3 linked regions of the Homo sapiens genome follow. The protein of the gene in region 3 purifies or fractionates together with the protein of the main gene of each other region. This does not show direct contact. Each region holds a gene or a part of one and is shown on either strand. Other genes may lie near its edges.

Region 1 (3,508 bases), on a different chromosome or scaffold from region 3:
ATGAGTTTTGGGGTGGGTTTTTCTATTTCTGCAAAAAACACTTAAGATTTTGATAGGGATTGCATCGAATCTGTAGATTGCTCTGGGTAGTGCTTGCAGCAATGTTTTGTGGCTTTCAGTGTACAAGATTTTTGCCTTCTTGATTAAATTTTTTCCTAAGTATTTTATTCTTTTCAATGCTATTATAAATTGAGTTGTTTTCTTAATTTTTGGATTGTTCATTGTTAGTATGTAGAGATGAAATATTTTTGTGTGTTGATTTTATATCTTGCAACCTTGCTGCATGCTTTTAATTAGCTCTAACTTTAAAGAAAAAGATTTTAGGGTTTTCTATATATAAAATCATGTCATCTGTGAACAGAGAAAATTTTACTTCTTCCTTTACAATTTGGATGCCTTTTATTCCCTTTTCCTTTTTTTGCCTAATTGCTCTAGTTAGGACTGCTAGTACTATGTTGAATAGAAGTGGTAAGAGCAGACATCTTTATCTTGTTCCTGATCTTAAGAAGCTTTCGGTCTTTCACCGTTAAGGTATGATGTTAGCTGTGGGCTTTTCATATAAAAATGTCCTTCAATATATGAGGTGGGATGGTTCCAGGAATCCCCTCAAAATAATCTGAGGATGTTCAAATCCCTTATATAAAGTGCTATAATATTTGCACCTATACACATCCTTCCATATATTTTAAATTATCTCTAGGTTACTTATAATACCTAACACAATGTAAATGCTATGTAAATCGTTGTTGTACTGTATTTTTAAAACTTGTATTTTTTTGGTTGTATTGTTATTTTGTATTGCTTTTCCCCAAATATTTTATATCTGCTGTTGATTTAATCCCTGGATATGGAAACTGCAGAGATAGAGTGCCAACTCTATGGCCTTTATCATGTTGATGAAATTTCCTTCTGTATTAGTCCATTTTGTGCTGCTATAACAGAACACTTGAAACTGGGGAATTTATAATGAGCAGAAATTTATAGGCTCATGCTTCTAGAGTTTTGGAAGTCCAAGATCAGGGAGCTAGCATCTGGTGAGGGTCTTCTTGCTGTGTTATCCCATGGTGGAAGGCAGAAGGGCTAGAGAGAATGAGAGGGAGCAAGAGAGGAAGAAAACAAATTTGAAACTTCAAGCCCTTTTATAATTGGCATTAATCCCTTCAAGACAGTAGAGCCCTCATGACCTACATACCTCCCATTAGGTTCTATCTCTCAGTACTGTTACTTTGAGGATTAGGTTTCCAATACATGCTTGTTGACACATTCAAACCATAGCATCTTCTAGACCTAATTAATTGAATATTTATATCAAGAAAGAATGATGACATTTATCAAATGCTTTTTCTATGTCAACTGAAATGGCCATGTATTTTTTCCTTCATTCTATTAATGTGGTATATTTCATTGATTGATTTTTGATTTGTACATGTTAAACCATCCTTGTATTCCAGGAATAAATCAATGTATACTTCTTTTAATATGCTGCTGAATTTGATTTGCTGGATTTTATTAATTTTTCCATCAATATTCATAAAGAGTATTGGTCTGTAGTGTTCTTTTCCATTTTTCTTTTTTCACAGAGACAAGGTCTTGCTGTATTGCCCAAGTGTGGTCTTGAATTCCTGGCATCAAGTGACTCTTCTGCCTCTGTCTCCCAAAGTGGTTTTCTTTTCTTGAAGTGACTTTGTCTGATTTTGGTATCAGGGTAAAGCTGACCTCATAGAATTAGTTATGAAGTGTTCTCTCGTCTTCAGTTTTTTTTGTAAGTTTGAGAAGGATTGGTATTAGTTCTTCTTTAAATGTATGGTAGAATTAACCAGCAAAGCTATATTAGTTCTTCTTTAAATATATGGTAGAATTAACCAGCAAAGCTATCTGGTCCTGAGCTTTTCTTTCTTGGGACATTTTTGATTACTGATTTAATCTTACTAGTTATTGGTCAGATTTTCTATTTCTTCACAGTTCCGTTTTGGTAGATTGTGTTTTTAGGAATGTTTTCATTTTATTTACGTTATCCAATTTATTGGTATACAAATGTTCATAGTATTCTCTTATATTCCTTTTTATTTCTGTAAAGTTCATGGTAATGTCCTACTTTTATTCCTGATACTAGTAATTTGAGTCTTCTTTTTCTTTGTCAGTCTAGCTAGTTTTGTCAGTTTTATTGATGTTATCAAAGAATCAACTTTGGTTTTCTTGATTTTTCTCCACTGTTTTTCGATTCTCTATTTCATTTGTCTTCACTCTAATCTTGATTATATCCTTCCTTCTGTGAGCTTTGGGTTTAGTTTGCTCTTCAAGCTCTCTGGTCTTTACTTTTTCCTTTTCTCATTCCTTAAGGTGTAATGTTAGGTTACTGATTTAAGATTTTTTTAATATATGCATTTGCAACTATAATTTTCCCTCTCAGCATTGTTTTTGCTGCATCCCTTAGGTTTTAGCGCGGTGTAAGGTGTGTGTGTGTGTGTGCACGCGCGTGTGTGTGTGCGTGTGTGTGTGTGTGTGTGTGTGTTTCTGCCTTTCTCATGTTACCTCCTAATTTACCTCATGATTTCTCTTTTGACCCATTGGTTTTTTGTTTGTTTGTTTGAGACAGAGTCTTGCTCTGTCACCCATGCTGGAGTGCAGTGGCACAAATTCAGCTCACTACAACCTCCACCTCCCAGGTTCAAGGATTTCTCGTGCCTCAGCCTCCCAGGTAGCTGGGATTACAAGCGTGCGCCAACATGCCCGGCTAAGTTTTGTATTTTTAGTAGAGATGGGGTTTTGCCATGTTGGCCAGGCTGGTCTCAAACTTCTGGCCTCAAGTGATCTGCCTGCCTTAGCTTCCCAAAGTGCTGTGATTACAGGTGTGAGCCACCATGCCTGGCCCCATTGGCTGTTTAATTTTCACATATTTGTGAGTTTTTTTAGTTTTCTATTATTGATTTCTGGTTTCATTCTATGTGATCAGAAAATATTTTTTATATGATTTCAACCTTTTTGAATATATTAAAGCTTATTTTGTGGCTACAAACTTGTTTTGTGGCCTATCTTGGGGAATGTTTCATGTGCACTTGATAAAAATATCTCTTCTTTATTGTGGTATGGAGTGTTCTGTGTATGTCTGCCAGGTATAATTGGCTTACGGTGTTGTTGAAGTCCTGTTTCCTCATTTATCTTCTGTCTAGTGGTTCTGTCTCTTACTGAAAGTGGTGTTTTGAAGTCTCCAAATATTATTATAGAGATATCTATTTCTCCCTTCAATTCTGCCAGTGTTTGCTTCATATATTTTGAAGCTCTGATATTTGGTGCATATATGTTTATAACTGTTACATATTATTGATGAATTTATCCTTTTATTAATACATAATGTACTTTTTAATCTCTTCTAATCGTTTTTGACTTATAGTCTATTTTGTCTGATATTAGTATAGTTACCTCATCTCTCTTTTGTTTACTATTTGTATGGGTTTTTTTTACATCCTTTCATTTTCAACTTCTTTGTGTCTTTAGATCTAAAGTGAGT
Region 2 (3,508 bases), on a different chromosome or scaffold from region 3:
TGCTCAGGTTGGTCTCAAATTCCTGGGCTCAAGCAATCTTCCTGCCTCAGCCTCCTAAAACGCTGAGATTACAGGTGTGAGCCACTGCACCTGGCCCTCTTGTCTACTTCTAAAATAAATGAGACATGTTAGCCTTCAACAACCCTGATGAAATAAATGTCTCCTTCACGGAACTTGCCTAACAGTCCAAGACAGAAACTCTCAACTGACTTTGCACTTTCTTATTGCGTATCTGTGCCACTTATTCCAGTTCATCTCTTCTACCAAATAGCAGGAGAATAGGGGACACATATTCAAATTCTCTTATCTAGCAAAATAACAAGGGCTCCAGAGAAACCGATTAAATATAAAATCTTCTATAAGGTCAAGAATCTTAGGAATAATAGTAGCAGCACTATTCTGCTCTTAACTGCATAGGCATTTCCCTCTGACTTCTAAGATGATTTTGCATTTGCTTTATTTTTTTAGTAAACTGCTACAAATTAGAGGCTGTCTGATATCTGCTGCTAGACAAAAATGTTGTCTCTGTAAGTTTGATTTCTAACTCCTCTGGTATTATTCGAATACATGTTTAATAAAGAATAATAGCTGACCTACCTAGAATGAACTTCCTACTTTTATCTCAGCTGCACTAATACAGGTTGAGTAACTCTCATCAGAAATGTCTGGGACCAGAAGTGTTTCAGACTTCAGATTTCGGACTATTTATCATTACACTTCATTGTTGTTAGGGTTCAGGATCCCTAATTCAAAAACCCAACATGTGAAATGCTACAATTTTCTTTGAGCATCATGTTGACACTACAAATGTTTTGGATTTTGGAGCATTTCTGGATTTTAAATTAGGGATGCTCAACCTGTAATTCATACATTATTTGAACAAAAACTTGTTCAATACAGTATTCTTTCCATTTAATAACCCTTCCCTCCAATATATTTTATCTAATCTTTTGATCTTTAGATGAAAAAGGAAAACAAAAACAGCTGACTTACCACCCAAGAGCCTCTCATCATGAAGTTCATGAGAACAGGCGTTCTGCTGATTGCTATGGCAGACAAAGCTGTTAAACCAATACTCCCTGCTAAGTACATATAGGTGGAATGAATTCTATCCTTGACATACTGAGGCCAAATTCTGTAAGAAACATGACATGATTAATCTATGAAATTACAGATTTGATTTCTGGTTGAGTCACACACTAGCTGGGCGACCTCGGGATAAATCATTTTACACTTTAAATCTTATTCACTTCATTTATCATGGAAATAATTATGATAATTATGCATACTTGGGAGTTACTGTAAGGACTAAATGAGATAAAACATACAAGCACATATAAAAAACAACATATTTTTGGCTGGGTGCGGTGGCTCATGCCTGTAATCCCAGCACTTTGGGAGGCTGAGGTGGGTGGATCACCTGAGGTCAGGAGATCGAGACCAGCCTGGCCAAAATGGTGAAACCCCGTCTCTACTAAAAATACAAAAAATAGCCGGGCATGGTGGCATGTGCCTGTAATCCCACCTACAGGAGCCTGAGGCAGGAGAATTGCCTGAACCCAGGAGGCGGAGGTTGCAGTGAGCCAAGATCGCGCCACTGCACCCCAGCCTGGGAGATAGAGCAAGACTCTCTCTCCAAAAAAACAAACAAACAAACAAACAAAAAACATATTTCATATTTTCTCTTTGCTTAAACACATATAACCTTGCTAAAAGATTTTTATTTAGATTTGAATAAATAAATGTCAAAGAAGCAAAAAGAGATTCTCTATTTGTGTGTATACACAAAGACTAGACACAAAACATTCCAAAGTGACTAAAGATAGGAATGAGAAGAAAATTTGAATTTTTGTTTTAAGGCTGGAGTTGTTTAGGAACAGTTTACTTAAAACAATTTACTTACACAGCCTTTTCAATAGCTCCAATCTCATTAGACAGTCCCAAGCCATAGTAGCACAATGCTCCAAGACCAACAGCAGCCCCTCCAGCAACAAACCATCTTCCCATCTGATCAACTGCAGAACACAGAAGGAAATGCAGGTTAGTACTGGCACATCTGGACAAAGCCTTTAAAATATTTATCAAGGGAATCAAATCATGTACCATATTTAATAGAAGCCATAATCAGTGCATATGGGGTACAGAAATTGCCTCAATGTTAGGTAACCAGTAGAAAAAAACACTCCTGAAACAAAGGTGTAAAAATCAGTACAAAAAAGAAAGGATCAGGCTTGGTGAATCTTCAACCTCCCTCCAACAATATTTGAGGGAGCAGTATACCTGTAGACGTGGAGCTACTTCTGTGATACCTATTATTTTACTAATAAGAGGTTGAAGTATATTCACATGACATTCATGGAAAGTAAAAAATGAGAAGGAAATGTTAACAGTCATACCATACTGCATGGTATTAACACAAATGATGCTTTACGTGGAAATCAAGAAAAAAGAGAAAATATAATCAGTGTTTATGCAGCAGAATCAAGTGAGAGGAGGCTCCCGTTTTAGGGTACTGAGAGGCAACTAATCAACTCTAACTCAATAGAGGTATTCATAAAGGGCATCTTATTCTTTTAGTCTAATTCGTTTACTAAGAATATTACTAGGCTGTCACTACATAATTTGCATGATTTGGTCTCTAGGGTCAAATCAGAAAGAAATGACCTGAAGGATACTGATTAGGGCTCTCTCCCACTGTAAAGACATTTTGCAAGATTATTAAGGAGCAGTGGTATTCTTTGAATAGCTTTAGGATGATTAACAATCTAGTTTCTGAACTTGCAAAGTTGATATCCAAACTGAACCAAACTGGCAATATATTAAAGTACTGCCCTCCTGAGGCCCTATGTGAGCAGTGAGTTAAAGGATTCTTCTTGGACAGCTAGGCTTTTATTAACATCTATGTGTTGGTGATTTATTCTTAATCTGAAACATACACAAATATTATATGCTTGAATGAGGATTCTACACACTTAAAATGAACTTTCTCAACAGAGTATACCTTTTGGACCATGGCATATTAATAATCCTTTTCTTTAAAAAAAAGGAAAGTAAAATTTCCACTGGAAGAAATATGATTGATAACCACTGAATCCAGTGCAAAGTACCAATCTTTTCTGGGTCGTCAGATCTCAGAATAATAATGTGGTCTTCCCAGAAAATGCACAAATACACATATATTTTTAGGAAGTTGTTCATGGACCTCTTAAAACATATCCATAGATTCTAGGTTAAAAACTAAAGATAGCCACCTACTTTTAAATATTTTTTCCATCGATGGTTCCAATGCTGCCTCTTTGAGTTCTTGGCCAGTTCTCCCACGCCGGATCCCAATTCTTGTTTTGGTGGCATATTCCTGACACACATGCAAACAAAGACACGTACCACCCACATGAAAACAGAACGTTAATAAAATAAAATGCAAGATCCCTTTACACTAGAAAACTCTAGTTAAAGAAACTTGGTACTTTCTATATACCTAACTTCACTATGGAAATTTATTAGCCAA
Region 3 (4,158 bases):
GTGCTCACCTCCCGCTGCCGCAGGCCCGCGCGTTCCAGGTCCTGCTCGCGGCTCTGCAGCTCCAGCTCCAGACGGCTTCTCCGCTCCCCGCGGGCGAAGTTCTGGGACGCACGGAGGACCACTGAGCCTCCGCCGGCCGCTCGGCCATGCAAAAGAGGTACACGGAGGGCCAGGGGCTGGGAGTGGGCCCGGGCGGAGCGGGGTCGGGTGGAGAAGACCGGACGGGGGTGATACGTGAGGCCCAGTGGGATCTCCTCGGGCTGAGGGCAGCCTGGACCCGCGGAGGTGGGGCCGTCGGGGAGGGATTAATTCAGAGAAGGCGGAGCCAGGGAGGCCAGCGAGGTGGGATTGGGCCTGGCGGGAGGGGCGGGGCCCGAGGCCCACCTGACTCGGCGGGCGCCGGCTCTGCTCCCGAAGCTGCTCCGTCTCCTCGTACAGAGCGCGCACCTCCCTCTCGTGCTCGCTCTCGCGCCTTCGGGGGACCGGGCGACCCCGGATGAGAACTTGCCAGCGCTACAGCCCCCTGGCACCGCCTCTGCTGCTGCCCTGAGGCCCTCCATTGGCCCCCATACCCCACCCCGGCCCTCACCTCCGCAGCGCCTGCTCCAGGCCGTCGCGCTCCCGGGCCGCCTCCTCCAGGCAGGCCGACGCGCGTATCAGAACATCCTCGAAAGAGCCCAGCAGCTCGGGGCGCTCGCGCTGCAGCCTGGCCCAGAGCGTCCTCACAGCCCGCTGCCTGGAGGGCGGGCGGGAACTGAGGCTGGAGCTGGCAGAAGCGGGAAGCAGGCTTCCCTCCGCCAGCAGCAAACCCTTAGGAGACTTCTTCGCCCCTGGGCAGGACAGGAGCACTTGCTGCGTGCAGGGCATCCCTCCCGTGAGCGCTTTCGCCCCTGCCCGGCGTGCGTGGTCGGTGAGGTGTGTGTACCCTGGGCAGTGCCGGTATGTGGCCCCGCGCCCGGCGCTGCCCCTCCTCCCTGCAGCCCTGGCTGCTGCCTCATGAAATGCAAATTCTGCGGGAAATCATGCCGGGTCCCTCCCAGGGAATCGCAGCTGACGCTAGGCTGGGCCTGACCCGGCCTAGAGACCCTGTGCAGAACCAGCACTCGGGTGACAAGGGCAGACAGCATGCAGGCAGAGAAACAGCAGAGCGGGCAGTGGGAGCGGGGCCAGCGCCGACTCACTTGCCCAGGACCGGGGCCACCCCCAGCTGCTCCAGCACAGTGTGGAATCGCTCCTCCTCTTCCTCCTCCTCATCCAGAGAGCCCGCCGTGCCCTGCACGTCGAGCCCGCCCGACTCAAAGGTCTCCTCGGGAGTCCTGCAGGGGTTCGCTCCCTGGGCTGACGCCACCCCCACAAACATCCCTGCGGGCATGGAGCGAGCGATTACCAGGGCTGTGGGTCGCCACCGTGGCTGTGTCCCCGTTCACCCTCCCAACGAGTATCCTGCCCTCTCTCAGGGCCCAGTTTCCTGTTTTCCTTCCTTATTCTGGTCCTATTGGCCTGGAAACAAGAGGTGACAGGCCAGCTCCCAGCCCTACCGGAGCTTAGCACAGGAGAGGAGCTGGGGGCCAGGAAGGTCAGCTCCACACACTCCACCGCAGCTAGGAGCCCCCAGGCGCGAGTGCGTGCAGACAAAGCACGGGCCCTGGAGGGAGGAGGACGAGAGGCACCGGCAGCCCTCAGGGCGCCACAAGTGCCAGGCCTCCTGATCAGGCCTCCAGCTCTGGGCAGTGGGGGATAGGCAGGCCACAGGCTCACCCAGGCCCAGGCAGAACTCCCTGGCGGTGAGGAAGCCAGTGTGAGCCCGGTCCAGACTTTCAAACACAGCCTCCAGCTGCTCTGGCGTGAGGGGCAGGTCGCTCTGGAGACCCTGGTCGGGGAAGGAGAGCAGAGATGAGCCGCTGCGGTCAACCCAGGGCCGAAGCAGTCTCTTGGGGTGGGGGACTCACCTGCAGGTCGTGCTTGGTGATGAAGCCCTTAGCCTCCTTGTCACACAGCAGAAACAGCTCCTCAGCCTGCTCCAGTATTGCAGCCCGCGGCCCTGCAGAGCCCCCCTCGAGTTCCCCCTCCTCCTCCTGGGCCTCATCAGCCCCAGGCTTTCCAGGGCTGGCCATGAGAGCAGGGGGCCTCAGCCTGGCCTTCAGGTGCTGTGAAGCCAAGGGAGGGTCAGAAGAAATTCAGGAGGGGAGCGGATGGGGTGCAAGTGTGTCTGAAGGCTCAGCCGAGGGCCCTCCCTGCAGCAGGTGGGAAGGTGGGCGGAAGGCAAGGTGGGACCAGGGGGCTGGGGGTGGAAAATGCTGCAGGCTTGGGGTGTCACTGGGGTGGTTGATGTAGGCTCAGGGCCTGTGGGTACTGCCCCAGTGGGTCTGGCATCTCAGGAGGCTGGAACCCAGGAGGGGCTGCCAACTTCAGGAGAGGAGGAGCTGGAGGTGATGGCAATCTCAGGGGCCAGTGGAGAAGACCTGGTGATAAGGAAGGTGGGGTCCTGAAAGCTGAGAGGAGCAGGCTTGGGGTCAGTGAGGGAGGAGCCCCTCACACTCTGCAACTGGAGATCTGATCCCAAGTGAGGGCTCAGCCAGTCCTGACCAAGTCCTTAGCCCCTGGCCTGGGCCTGTGTGGCCCAGCCTCATGACAGCTGGCAGGCAGGGCAGACTTCTCCCTCCTGCCCACCGGCCCCTCCCTCCCCACAACTGAGCCCACAGAGTGCAGGGGCAAGGTCCCAGCCTGCAGAGCCCTTCGCCTCTGACGCCCCACTCAGGAACACTTCCAGATTCGAGACCTAACACCCTTGCCCCACAACACTGAGGCCCTTCCCCGTTTCAGAACTCCCTGGGGCCTCCCTTCCCACCTCCTTGCAGGGACGCCCCGCCCCCTAACCAGAGCCACCTGTCCTTCACACAATGTCCTGATCCCGGATTTCCCAAAGCTGCTCCCCACCAACACCCGCCTTCCCCCACCGGGGAGCTGGGATCCTCTCCCCTCACTCTCCACCCAGCGTCCTTCCATGTTCCTTAGCCCGGGCGACCTCCAAAGAGGGCAAGTCTGGGCGGGTGAGAGAAGGGGACACGAGAGGCCAGGGCCATTGCCTCCAGGCCACGTTGTTGTCTCGCCCGCCCTCCGGCTTGCCGGCTAGACCTGAGGTCCACCCCAGCCGGAAGCCGCGCGGCAGCAGGGCCCCAGGGAGGTGGGAGGATGGGCTGGTGGGGTGGGGCGGCCAGCCTCCTGTGCTCCCCGAAACTCTGGGGGACAACCCCGCCCTTACCCCTGCCGCCTTGCGCCCCGAGGGGGTAACCGGAGTTCCCGACCGAGACGCTCAGGTTTGGCGCGGGCCACGGCGGCCCGGAGGGGGTGCCGGGCGGGCGGCAGTGGAGGGGCCTCAGCGGCGGGACCAGCGGTCGCCTACCCGCGAGTTGCGCCGCCGCACCTGCCGCGCGCCCGGGCCGCTCCTCCCGGAAACACTGGGCGCGCCCCGCCCCAGCTGGGACCCGGACGGGACGTAGAGGGCACTGGGCCCCGAGCGACCCCTGCCGCTTCGCAGGCACCGAGACCCCCGCTTGGGCCGGCCCCGGGAGGAGCCACTCTGCGCCGCTGTCGCCTGTCCCCGCCTCTCTGCGCTGCCCCGGCGGCCCGATCCCTGGAGGCTCGAGCGAGCAGTGAAGCAACGATATGCCCCAGAGACCCAGGGACCCCCCGGAGCAGGGACAAGGCTGCGGGGGGCGGGCGCAGACACCAGCGCCTGGGAGGGGCCCCTCCTGTCCGGGGGGAGCCCGACTTAAGGCGCCAAAAAGTGTGTGTAGGAAAAAGCCGGGCAGGAAACAGACCAAATACTTTCAGCGGTTATCTCTAGGGGTGGGGAGCCTTTACTTTCTTCTCTATACTTTCCCGGTTTTTAAACAATAAACATGTAGGCCGGGCGCCTGTAATCCCAGCACTTTGGGGGGCTGAGACAGGGGCAGATCACCTGAGGTCAGGAGTTCGAGACCAGCCTGCCCAACATGGCGAAACCCCGTCTCTACTAAAAATACAAAAAATTAGCCAGGTGTGGTGGTGGGCGCCTGTAATCCCAGCACTTTGGGAGGCTGAGCCAGGAGAATCACTTGAACTCGGGAGGCAGAGTTTGCAGTGAGCCGAGATTGTGCCATTGCACTGGGCAACAAG

The links.
Region 1: the proteins of CRACR2B (region 3) and CARD19 purify together in Homo sapiens (affinity purification with mass spectrometry; 3 studies listed by BioGRID and IntAct, with this or other methods). This does not show direct contact.
Region 2: the proteins of CRACR2B (region 3) and GHITM purify together in Homo sapiens (affinity purification with mass spectrometry, with the first as the bait; one large-scale study listed by BioGRID). This does not show direct contact.

What each region holds. Positions count from the first base shown.
Region 1 is NC_000009.12:93,102,710-93,106,217, forward strand, and holds part of CARD19 (caspase recruitment domain-containing protein 19), read left to right. Parts: intron 1-3,508. UniProt on the Homo sapiens protein: Plays a role in inhibiting the effects of BCL10-induced activation of NF-kappa-B. May inhibit the phosphorylation of BCL10 in a CARD-dependent manner.
Region 2 is NC_000010.11:84,142,502-84,146,009, reverse strand, and holds part of GHITM (growth hormone-inducible transmembrane protein), read right to left. Parts: intron 3,356-3,508; coding exon 3,256-3,355; intron 2,016-3,255; coding exon 1,904-2,015; intron 1,136-1,903; coding exon 994-1,135; intron 1-993. UniProt on the Homo sapiens protein: Plays an important role in maintenance of mitochondrial morphology and in mediating either calcium or potassium/proton antiport. Mediates proton-dependent calcium efflux from mitochondrion.
Region 3 is NC_000011.10:826,564-830,721, reverse strand, and holds the start of CRACR2B (EF-hand calcium-binding domain-containing protein 4A), read right to left. Parts: upstream 2,804-4,158; 5' UTR 2,115-2,803; coding exon 1,950-2,114; intron 1,871-1,949; coding exon 1,759-1,870; coding exon of another isoform or gene 1,539-1,758; intron 1,363-1,538; coding exon 1,182-1,362; intron 755-1,181; coding exon of another isoform or gene 737-754; coding exon 590-736; intron 473-589; coding exon 385-472; coding exon of another isoform or gene 102-384; coding exon 9-101; intron 1-8. UniProt on the Homo sapiens protein: Plays a role in store-operated Ca(2+) entry (SOCE).